Homo sapiens: one gene and its partner. The protein of the gene in region 2 purifies or fractionates together with the protein of the main gene of each other region. This does not show direct contact. Each region holds a gene or a part of one and is shown on either strand. Other genes may lie near its edges. The genes, in order: METAP2 and FCRL2.

Region 1 (4,488 bases), on a different chromosome or scaffold from region 2:
GGAGATCAAGACCATCCTGGCTAACACAGTGAAACCCCATCTCTACTAAAAATACAAAAAAAAAAAAAATTAGCCAGGCGTGGTAGCATGCATCTATAGTCCAGCTACTCAGGAGGCTGAGGCAGGAGAATAGCTTGAACCCGGCTGCAGTGAGCTGAGATCGCGCCACTGCACTCCAGCCTGGGTGACAGAGCGAGACTCCCGCTAAAAAAAAAAAAAAAAAAAAAAAAAAAAAAAACAAAGTGACTTAGCCCTTTACTTTTTAATCCCTTAAAACTAACAAACACCTATGGGGGGAGGCTTGGAAAAGGGGGATATTATTGGGGGGGGGTCTGGGAAATCTGTAGTACTTTCCACTAAATTTTAGTGTGAAAAATGTCTCAAAATACCAACAATAAAATTAAAACCTAAACAATAAACAGAAACTTAGATTTCTTACTATTTATCTTAAATCTCAACATGGACGTCTACATTCTGCTAAGTTGATCTAACAAAAAACAACATGTTTTAGTTGTAAAATAATTTACTAAAGGCACTATTGTTAAACATCAAACTAATAACTTGTTGCCAATAAGGTACATCGTTGTAAACATAACAAAATTTTAAGAGATACATGGCTAATAAGCAAACAATACAATTTTTAGTTACAGCTTTCCTACTTACAAGATCATGTCCCTTCCAGCCATTACAAGGGCATACAGTGATGCCATTGCTCCCAACAGTTACCTGGGAAGGGAGCTTGGAGCTCCTAATTGGTTTGAGATCATGACTGCCAAGGTCTTTAAAAGCTCCAAAAGTCTTCACTCATAAAGGTCAATTCTAAAATTGCTGGGTTTAGAAATCAAGATACTTGCTTTATACTTCCACATCAAAAAGATACGGACTCAACCCCAAAGGAGCTAGCTGGAGGGCCCAGCCCTGACAGTATGTCCAGGCATGAACTGGCGAGCTCTGCTGCTAGCCACAGCATCACAGAGAATGGAGACATTAGTCAAATGTGGCTACTGAACATTAGCACCATAATAAACATAGCTCATACAGCTAAAACCTAGATTGTTTCCCGACAAGGTAACATTCATTTATAGCTCTAATGCTGAAAGAGCAGCTTTTTAATGTAACAGATGATCTAGGTACACAAGTCATAGGTTTCTCTTCCTAGGATAAAAACGTTCAACAAAATACAAACTAAACAGCATCCCAGAGGCAATAAAATCTCATTGTACTGAAACATATACAAATTAAGGCTACCTTGATATATAAATGATTTAGAAATTATGATGGAACATTCCCATAAAATTATTTAAATATAAGAATTCAATTTGTCAAAGAATCAGTAGTGGGCCTCAGTTCAAACAAATTAATATTACCATCGTTACATTCAACTTAATACACTTAGCCGCTATAAGGAAAGTAACTGTAACGTCACTTCCTGAAATACCACTAGTAATGTTAAGAATCCAAACCTGTCAAAGGGGAAGGTATTACAGCATTTGCCTCATGAATGAAAAAGTCCAAGAATTTCAACTTAATTTTTCTAACTAGAACAAGATCCAAACATGGGAAGTTTTTTTTTTTCTTCTTTGCTTTTGTGGCTTTAATACCCTTTTGGTTTTCTGAGCAAGCTGAATACATTCCCTGATAAACACCACCACTGGACAAAGGATCTAAACATTGAGATTTTTACTAAATCAAGGTTTTGAGTTGGCACAATGTTCCTACTAAGTCAAGTTTCAATTAGCACATCTTTCCAATGTCAGGAGAAAAAAAGACAAGGACTACTATGTCCTACAAAGAATGGTGAAATATTCCTAAAGCTGTATATTTATGAAGAAAAGGTGATTGTCCCTTTTTATGCATGTGTAGATCTTGTTTTAGCCACTATGCCAGAAAAGTCTCAGTGTAGAGGTCTACATTTCAGATAAATGTCTCTGCATTTGCCTACATTAAGTTTAGCTATTTATCCTGTCCAGAATTATAACCACAGACATTGAGATGTAGCTCTCAGATCTGAAAATGTCTTTATTTTTTAGAAAATGGATTCCAGGAAGGTTAAAAAGCAACACCAGAGGGTATAGGTGCAGAACTGGATGTAGTCATTCAAAGCATTCAAGTAAGAATATGGCAATATAAATATCCAAAAAGTATCTCTTAGGTATTCAAAACAAAACGTATAAGTCATTCCTAACTAATTTGAGCTTTATAGCATTTTCCTAGACAGGAAGGGGAAAAACAGTTAGCATTTAAAAGTCCGGAAAGCTTTTTCGTTGGTTAATTACATTAGACGGTTTGCCTTTGTCCAAATTCCTTCTTTTTTAAACATGGATAAAAGTATTACATGGGTCCACTGTTAAAACAGACAACATGTGGCAAATTAATTCTGGTATCATGTTTTCCAACAAAGCTCAGAAAATAAAGGTGTTGAGGTGGCTTTGGACTAAGTTTAATAGTCATCTCCTCTGCTGACAACTTCTTTACATGTTGGACGCAACAGGATGGTATGTTCAAATTGCGCTGTATATGATCCTTTAATGTCACATAATGGTGGATATGGATCTACAATGCCCAAGTCACACAGATTCTTCAGAGCCATCAAGTATTTACTTTCTCCCAAGCGATCCAGCCATCTGCGGCAGAAGGCAAGGGTTCCAAAGTTTTCATTGATGACATTTAACAAGTGTTTTGTTCTTGGAAGCCTAAGAGGAGAAAATCCAAAATTAACTGTTGGCAAAAGAGTTACGAACTGATTTCCCTCATTAAGAAAAGCCCAGACCTTAGCTGTGTCCTAGTAGTTGAAGTCCAAAAACTTTTATTGTTGCTCTTTCAACAATCAAAAGCCAGAATGTATAATAGCCCATACCTAATTATAGATGGCAGCTGAATAGGACACCAGCTGGAGGCCATCTTATCATGTTTACGTGTCTACGTGCGCGCGCGTGTGCGTGTGTGTGTGTTATATTCCCCACTAGAGACCTACTACAGGGTATTATGATGTGAATTTCCTTTTGTGTGCAGCAAGCTCAAAGACCTGCATATAAAAGATGTAAATGCAGATTTCAATCATCTTCAAATGTTAAAAAATTTCAATGTAAATTGAAAGACGCTGTAAATGGAAGTTTACCAATGGAAAAATATTAAAGCAAAAACCTAGGAATGCTAGCAAAATAATCTCTGACATTTATGATTATCAGAAACCGGACTTGAAGAGAGCACTTGTGTGTGTGTGTGTGTGTGTGTGTGTGTGTGTGTGTGTGTGTAATTTTTATCTCAGTTAAAATGTTTAACAGGCTATTTTTTTTTCTTATTGTTGGGCTACAGAACTCTACATTCATGAATATACTATTTTGTATGTATGCCACATTTTTTAGAAATGCTGTTAACTCAGAAGAGATGCTAATTAGCCACATAAAATCAATCGTCTCGTCTCTCACCTTATTGGCACATGTCCAACATCAAAATTTTTCATGTAATGTGAACATTCCATATCATCATGAACAACACCTTTTCCTGTACTACCAAAGGTTTCAATTGCATATACTTCTCCTTCCTGAAAAATAAATAAGGGTCAAGGGGAGAGAAAGAAGAAAAATTCAGAACGAATCACAATTACCATCTCTCTTTCTCTCTCTCTCTTTTTGAGACAGAGTCTCTCTCTGCTGCCAGGCTGGAGTGCAGTGGTGAGATCTTGGCTCACTGCAACCTCCACTTTCCAGGTTCAAGCGATTCTCCTGCCTCAGCCTCCCGAGTAGGTGGGACTACAGGCACGTGCCACCATGCCTGGCTAATTTTTGTATTTTTAGTAGATACAAGGTTCCACCATGTTGGCCAGGATGGTCTCAAACTCCTGACCTCACTCAGGTGATCTGCCTGCCTTGGTGTCTCAAAGTGCTGGGATTAACAGGCCTGAGCTACCGAGCCTGGCCTACAATTACCATCTCTTGAAGTCTCTACCTGATTAAGCAGCAACATGAAATAGCCCCTGGCGGTCCTTATCTAGCCTTGCCCTGCTTTATCTCCTTAGCACTTTTTGGTCTTTCTGCTTCCCCCTATGAATTATGTTCACAGCTCTACCCCTAGAGCCTACTATAAAGAGACTGGCACCTGAGAATGCTCAATAAATATTCATTAAATGTTGAATAAACAACCCTTTCACAGCCCCAATTTCCACAACTGATTTAGTGCTGACTATACACAATTTGCAAATTCAAATGGCCCAATTCCTGGCAGGGTGAATATGGATGATAAGCAGCTAATTCTGGTCAGTATAACCATATATTTAACTACCATGACCTTCTGCTTGGAAGAAAAAAATGTCTTCCATGGAAGTAAAATGTTAGTGACACACATACCTCCATTCTTGTTGCCTCCCCTCCTTTCACAATCGGCACTGTTTTTCCAGCATGTATTCTATATTGCCCAATTGAATGTCCATTTAGATTACGGATTGGTTTCACTGTTATAAAAAATAGGGAAATAAAAGTCATTCAGGAT
Region 2 (7,300 bases):
TATATGCATACTTTGGTGATATTGCAGGTTCAGTTCCAGACTACCAAAATAAAACAAATGCTGCAATAAAGCAAGTCACACAGATTTTTTGGTTTCCCAGTGCATATAAGTTATGTTTACACTCAAGTCGATGCACATAAAGAAGAAAATCTGGAGGAAACGGCTAAATTCCTGGAAACACACAATCTCCCAAGATTGAACCAGGAAGAGACAGAAACCCCTCCTAGACCAATATCAAGCGCTGAAGTTGAATTAGTAATAAAAAACTTACCAACCAACACAAAAGCCCTAGACCAGATGGATTCATAGCTGAATTCTACAAGATGCAGAAAGAATAACTGGTACCAATCCTGCTGAAACTATGCCAAAAAATCAAGGAGGAAGGGCTCCTGCCTAACTCATTCTATGAAGCCAGCATCAGCCTGATACAAACATTCTGGCAGAGACACAGTGGAAAAGAAAATTTCAGGCCAATATTCCCAATGAACATATTTGCAAAAATTCTCAACAAAATATTAGCAAACTGTATCCAGCAGCACATAAATAAGTTAATACACCACTATCAAGTCCTGTTCTCATCACTTCACAGTAGATGAAGGTGAGACCTTGTATCTCTTATTCATTCTTCCCTCAAATCTTTACACACTGATTGCTTAAGAGAAGGTAGCAGAAATAATTTATTTGCACAGTGTCTGGATGTAGCAGCAGTTCAATGAATATTGATAGGTAAAAGAAGATATTGGAGAAGAAACATCATCAGGACAAAAATGACAGGAGGTGCCTCCTGAGGCACGTTCTGGCTGTGGCAGGTGATAAGCCTCAAGCATTTTCATAAGGTTTTATAGCAAGTCTTAATGATGCCCCATCCTTGCTGTTGATCTTCCCTTCTGATTCCTCCAAGTGTTATGATTTCTTCACAGAAGAGTAGATGACTTGGGAGTCCTGGGAGAGACACACAGGAATAAAGACTGAGGTGATCAAGAAAATAAATAGGGAGAAGGAAGGAAAGATGAAGAAATTCCAAGGTGTCTAGCTCACCTTGTTCTCCAGAAGTGTCCTGATGTTTGCTGTTAAGGAAAAAGTAATAGTTCTGAGCTCTTGCATTCTTAATTAGGCCTCACTCCCAGACTTTATGCCCCAGGGCATAGAACTACTATGCTTAGTATGTGGAATCCCATTTTCTCCTGTTCTGTAAAATCCTTTCTTAAAGTTGTTAATACTGAAGTCCTTCTAAGACTCTATCCATCTTCCAAGCCCTCCACCAGCACTTACTAACAAAGCGCTTCCTTTCTCTAATGCAACTTCCCATAGGTCATTGTCTTTATAATTTTTTCCTCTTGACTTCTCTGTTGCAGCATTCTGTCAGGGCTGTTTCCTGTTCTTTCTCTATGTTCCTGAGATAACCAATCATGTGTGGTTCACCTCACTACATAGAAGGAAATTGGAATAGAAGCATAGATAACAGAAGACAGACTCTGAATCACATAGTATTTTGAGTCTGGTTGCAGGAGCTGCTTAGTGATGTCTGCTTCTTTTCCCCTTTTTCCAGGTAGGCATAGTGGGATGACATCCCTTTCCTTCCCTTGAAGATTTACAGCTAGAGGGCTTGGAAAGTGACTGCACTTTTTGATTCTGCTAGGCTGGTCAGATAGAGAAAGAGAATGATAGGGTAATCAACTCCCTATAGGAAGTTGAAGTGGCAAATCTAAGCAAGGCAGACAGAGGACCCACCTTCAGAGGCTCAGAGGAGAGTAGCTAGATGACCACTGACCAGGAAATCAGCCAAGCTGTCAACAGCCACTGGCTCCATCAGAGGCAACCAGGAGTACAGAACAAAGGACAGCTTTTAGGGTTGTTGATATAAGCATTGTAGTTTTAAGGGCACTGGAGCAGAAGCTTAAAGGACACTCCTCTGCACTGCTGCAGAACTCAGCAGTTCCTGCAAAGCTACGTGTCAAAGTGAAAATTCTCTAGGTCATGTTGATTTATTCAGTTATTCCTCCCATCCCATATGAAGACTACAGATCCTTCAAAAGAGACACTTTAATGACCCTGTTCACCTGAGAGAATTCCTCTTGGACTTTAGACATGCTCACTCTTGCCTGATTTCCTTCTTTTGCCTTGAATCTTAGATTCTCCCTGACTATCTAACCCGATTCAAATGAAGACTCATTAGACCATCACCCTATTTTTTTTTTTAAGTTTGCTCTCTTCACAAGAGCCTACCTCCAGGTGTCTCTTGCTCCCTCCTGGATCAACAGATTTCCTATCAAGGGCAAGTGATGTATTAAAGCCTCTATTGCTGGCTGGGTGCAGTGGCTCACACCTGTAATCCCAGCACTTTGGGAGGCTGAGGCGGGTGGATCACTTGAGGTCAAGAGTTTGAATCCAGCCATGGTGAAACCCTGTCTCTACTAAAAATACAAAAATTAGCTGGGCGTGGTGGCGCATGCCTCTCATCCCAGCTACTCAGGAGTCTGAGAGAGGAAAATCAAGCAATTTTCCTGTATCAGCTCACAGGCAGAGATTGCAGTGAGCTGACATTGCACCACTGCACTCCAGCCTGGGCAACAGAGCAAGGCTCCTCAAAAGTAGATAGATAGATAGACAAATAAATAAATAAATAAATAAATAAATAAATAAATAAAGCCTCTATTGCAAACAATGCATCACTTTCCTGTGAATATGCATCTGACAAGAACTACTTTGCAGTTTCTCACCTGAGCTTTCTGGCTGCTGCATGCTCCAGACCTGAGAATAAACCACATCCACATCTACAGAGCCCACTGCAGGGAGAAGACAAGAGTTCACAGATGTTGGTGGCCCAGGGTTCACACTTCATACACAGCTTCCCAGGCCCTGGCTTAATGATTATATCCTTCCTCTCAACCCCAACATGATTCTGAGAGAGTCTGTTATTTATTGGGAATGGCTGGGCCTCTGGTGTTGGGGTGTCTACACCACCCACCTAATGGTCTCCGCTCCTGTCTCCTCTTTCTTTTCTGACTCAGCCTCAGAGCCCTTCCCAGTGGAGACACTCACCATTGACATACACTGGCTGCAGCTCCTCCATGTCTGGGGTTGGGCTTGAATAGGTGAACTCTTGAGGATTTGGCCTGGAAGCCCCTCTGTGAGAAAGTGAATTAATTGTATGATAATCCCCAGGGCAGTGAGTGAGAACAGAGGGGAGACTGGCTGAGGAGAGAGCAGGTGGAAGCCCTGCAGCCATGGCTCTCTGCTTGGGTGATTTTATGGCCCTTTGTGTAGACTATCTACTTTGATATGGCCAAAACTTCTGTTCCTTATCTTTGGCTTTTTCAAAAGTTATAAATAAGACAATGATATTGCTCCAGAATCTTTTTTTTTCTTATAAACTGTCATAAAACTTTGCCTGCCTTTTTCTCATTACTTTATCTCTCTCACTCCTTCTTGTACTCTGGACATATACTACATACCTATAGCACAGTATGTCCCTGGAGGAAATACACATTTTGTGTGTATGTTCTTTCCTCTAAATATCTAACAAAAACTTACTTATACATTATAGGTATTCAATAATCTTGAATATATGAATTTATATATTAATTTAAATGTATGTAATCCTATACAAGATAACACCAAGGATCATGTGGACCACCTTAAGACAGTGCCCTGGTGGCAGAAATGTAATGCAGTAGAGACAAGAGTAAGTATTATAGAAAGATACCATGTTAATTACATAGCTTCAGTCTCAACGTACAAGCAGAGTACAGTAGGTATTTAAAACTGAATGAAGGAGACCTCTAGAATTAAAATTTTTACTAGGAAGAGTTCTCACCTGGGTTCATTAGTGGCAGAACTTTCTCCTGAAATGCAAATAAAACAAAATTCATTTCAGAGAAGGAAGCTTTATCTCTTAAAATTTTGACATGATTTAACTACGTATAATCAGCTGGTAAGACATAAGATATAGAAGAGTAATCCAATTGTATTTCATCTAAATGGCTACTTATTTATTCCAACACAACTAGTTGTTAGTAAAATAATTCATTCTTTTTTTCCCACTGATTTAAAATGCCACTTCAAATGGCAAACCCGTCATGCACTGGTAACTGTTTCTTTATTTTCTATTCTGTTCTATTGTCTCTTTGTCTATTCATGTACCTGTACAATGTTGTTTTAACTATCCTAATGTATAACATATTTTAACCATTGATGACTAATTTTATTTTATTGCTCTTCTGTATTAGATTTTATGCAGCCATTCTTAATTTTTAAATGTTTGATATTTGCAACACTTAGTCTTTAGGAATGATCTTGGGGCTAAGCTGGATGTTGACATTCGTAAGGCGAACTAGGCCATCTCTTGTACCATTTTGCTTTGTGGAGAGATGTAAAACAAGAAACGCAGTATATTAGCATAGATGTATCAGCTGTGTGTTTAAAGAGAATCCTCATAGCGATCCAGGAGATATTTTCTAGTCCTCCATTAATACCTCAGGAAACAATGCCACATAGATGTATATAGAGGCCACCCCAGCTCAAAAGCTTCATGCTTCGTAGAAATCAGTATCGCTTGTAACACCCATGAGTGTATGTGTGTAGCTTCCAGAGGTCACTACTACAAGAGACATGCTAAATTTCAAGAGTTACATTGCATTTGGGGATACCCCAGTTGTGCTTCCCATCAGGCTTATATAATCGTGGTCAAAGTCCTCCCAGTGTAGAGGCAGTTTGCCTATCATGGAAAATACTGCTAGTAGCTCAGCCAATATTTCAACTTTGTTAGGCTTTACAGAAAACAGTGCTAGAAAATTAACTTTGATTTAGTTTTCCAAGGAGAAGGTAAAACTTCTTTATAATTAGCTTGTTTAGTCTTCATGGAAAGGAATGACCTCAGAATTGTCTACCAAGCCAAACTGTCATTAAAGCATAAGTAAGGGGCAGTCAGTCATATTCAAACATGTATTAAATTAGTGTATATGTTTCCAGCAATTCCTTCTTGAAGAAATTATTTTAAAATGGACTTCAAAAATAGTTCTACTATCTAAGCACTTTTGAATAATAACAAAATGTGATGATACATTGGTTCACAAAGAAAACCTCCAAAATATTCCAAAAATCGACATGGTACAAATAATATTCCTTGATCATAATGGAACTGGTAATTCATAACAAAACTATGAAAAAATTGACATATGTCTATAATTTGTCAATTTAAAGGAAGCAAGTCTTAAGCAACTGAATACGTATACAAATATATAAGAAAAAAAGGAAGACTCAATATCCAATTTGTTCAAAAGAATCAAACTAACAAAAATAGAAGGCAATAACTAACAAAGATAAAAGCAGAATTCTAGAATTAGAAAGAAATATTGGTAGATCAAATAATAAATTCTAAGAGTTTTACCATACAGGAGATAGAGGCACTATCTTTCTAGATGGTTACATTTCAAAGGGCTGGCTCCCAAGTCTTAGAGATAGACATTTCTGGGTTGTAAAACTGGCAAGAGGCTAAGAGAAGATTTATATCTCAAGGAGGCAGAGAAAGAATTTACAATTGCAAGTTTTCTAAAGTAAATGCTCTAAGAAAAGGGAGATGAGGAGCCTATAGTCAATCGGAGGACAATATTAAGGCCAGCTTGGTGTGGGGAGGAGTGCCCCGTGTGGACACATGCCTGAAAAATCTTAAGGAGCCTTGAAAAGCAGATAAAGGAACATTCATTTCAGGGGAGATACGGTCATCTGCCTGAGGCAGGAGCTGCATATTTACAGGTGGGTGCAATGGTGTGCAAGTGTTTCTTGTGGATGGATCTGAGCCCTGTGGAAGAGAGGCAAAGCTTGAAGCCATTTCAAAATCTGGCCAAGAGGACTTCCTGAAGAGGTATAGGGTTCCAAAATAAGGGTGGAGGGGAAGAGGAAGAAGACTTTAGATTCTTGGAAACTGAAGAGAGATGTTAAGTGCTCAGCTGGAGAAGAATGAATCACCTGCATCACAAGATGCAGGTAGGTAATGTTAATAGTTGGGGGGCTCTGGAGAATCCAGAAACACACCCCCAAAATAGGAGCTGATTTTCTCAACCGAGCAAACCTGGAGAGTCAGCTTTTTCAGAGCCAGAGGAAATCAATGCCAGCCATGGGGGTTTCAAAAACAGAAGCAAGTTGAGGAAAGAGAGAAACATCTGGCCAGAACCCTTTCCATATTGCAGAAGGCTGGCCTGAAGAGGGTCTGAGCTGAGTGGGTGGGAGGTGAGTGCTTTAACTTTGAGATTCAGAAAGCTGCTTAATGAACAAGCGCTCTTTGGAGAAACTATGTTTTTGTTGTTGTTTGCCTAAAATTATATAGGAGTGATATGGTGTGGCTGTGTCCCCACCCAAATCTCATCTGGAATTCCCACATGTTGTGGGAGGTACCCAGTGGGAGGTAACTGAATCATGGGAGCAAGTCTTTCCCGTGCTGTTCTCATGATAGTGAATAAGACTCACAAGATCTGATGGTTTTAAAAAGAGGAGTTTCCCTGCACAAGCTTATCTCTTTGCCTGCCGCCATCCACATAAGATGTGACTTGCTCCTCCTGGTTTTCTGCCATGACTGTGAGGTTTCCCCAGCCATGTGGAACTATAAGTCCAATTAAACCTCTTTCGTTTGTAAATTGCCCTGTCTCAGGTATGTCTTTATTAGCAGCATGAAAACCGACTAATACAAGGAGTAAGTGGATAGACTATGGGCCTGCCTGCGATTTCAACCAGAGTCAGGGAAAATATAATCCTCTAAGACTGAGTGTGAATGGGCAGTAGGAAGAGGAAGATAAAAAATTAAATTTTATGGTTGCACTCTAAGAGTACCCTTGTTAGATGAATCAGTTATCATAGCAAAAATTAATCAATATCTCAGGAGTAAACTTAGCAAGAAATGGTGAAAGCCTATATAAGTAAAACTCTAAAATACTATGACTCAAAATTTACCAAAAGTAGACACACTCTTGGATAGAAACATTTCTCATTATAAAGCTGTCAATTCTTCCTTAATTAATCTCAAAATTTAAGAGAATCCTAACAAAACTACTTTGTTGAGAGACACTGATTATATTGTTTGTAGGGAAAATAAGTAAGCAATAATATCCAGAAAAGTTCTGTAAGAATAGCATAGTCATGATGGGAACAACCTTGATGGAATAAAAAATGTATTGTTATAAAGCGAAGGCATACAAGTCACACACACAAACACACGTATGCACACACTGACATACACACAAACAGAATAGGGCATCAAAGTTAGATCTGAATAGTATCAGATATTTAGTATAGCTGAACTGCTTTT

Evidence for each region.
Region 1: the proteins of FCRL2 (region 2) and METAP2 purify together in Homo sapiens (affinity purification with mass spectrometry; 2 studies listed by BioGRID and IntAct, with this or other methods). This does not show direct contact.

Annotation. Positions count from the first base shown.
Region 1 is NC_000012.12:95,511,857-95,516,344, reverse strand, and holds the end of METAP2 (methionine aminopeptidase 2), read right to left. Parts: intron 4,451-4,488; coding exon 4,347-4,450; intron 3,545-4,346; coding exon 3,429-3,544; intron 2,694-3,428; coding exon 2,441-2,693; 3' UTR 506-2,440; downstream 1-505. UniProt on the Homo sapiens protein: Cotranslationally removes the N-terminal methionine from nascent proteins. The N-terminal methionine is often cleaved when the second residue in the primary sequence is small and uncharged (Met-Ala-, Cys, Gly, Pro, Ser, Thr, or Val).
Region 2 is NC_000001.11:157,745,833-157,753,132, forward strand, and holds part of FCRL2 (Fc receptor-like protein 2 isoform 1 precursor), read right to left. Parts: intron 3,846-7,300; coding exon 3,818-3,845; intron 3,129-3,817; coding exon 3,043-3,128; intron 2,787-3,042; coding exon 2,721-2,786; intron 1,068-2,720; coding exon 1,039-1,067; intron 969-1,038; coding exon of another isoform or gene 943-968; coding exon 904-942; coding exon of another isoform or gene 830-903; 3' UTR 1-829. UniProt on the Homo sapiens protein: May have an regulatory role in normal and neoplastic B cell development.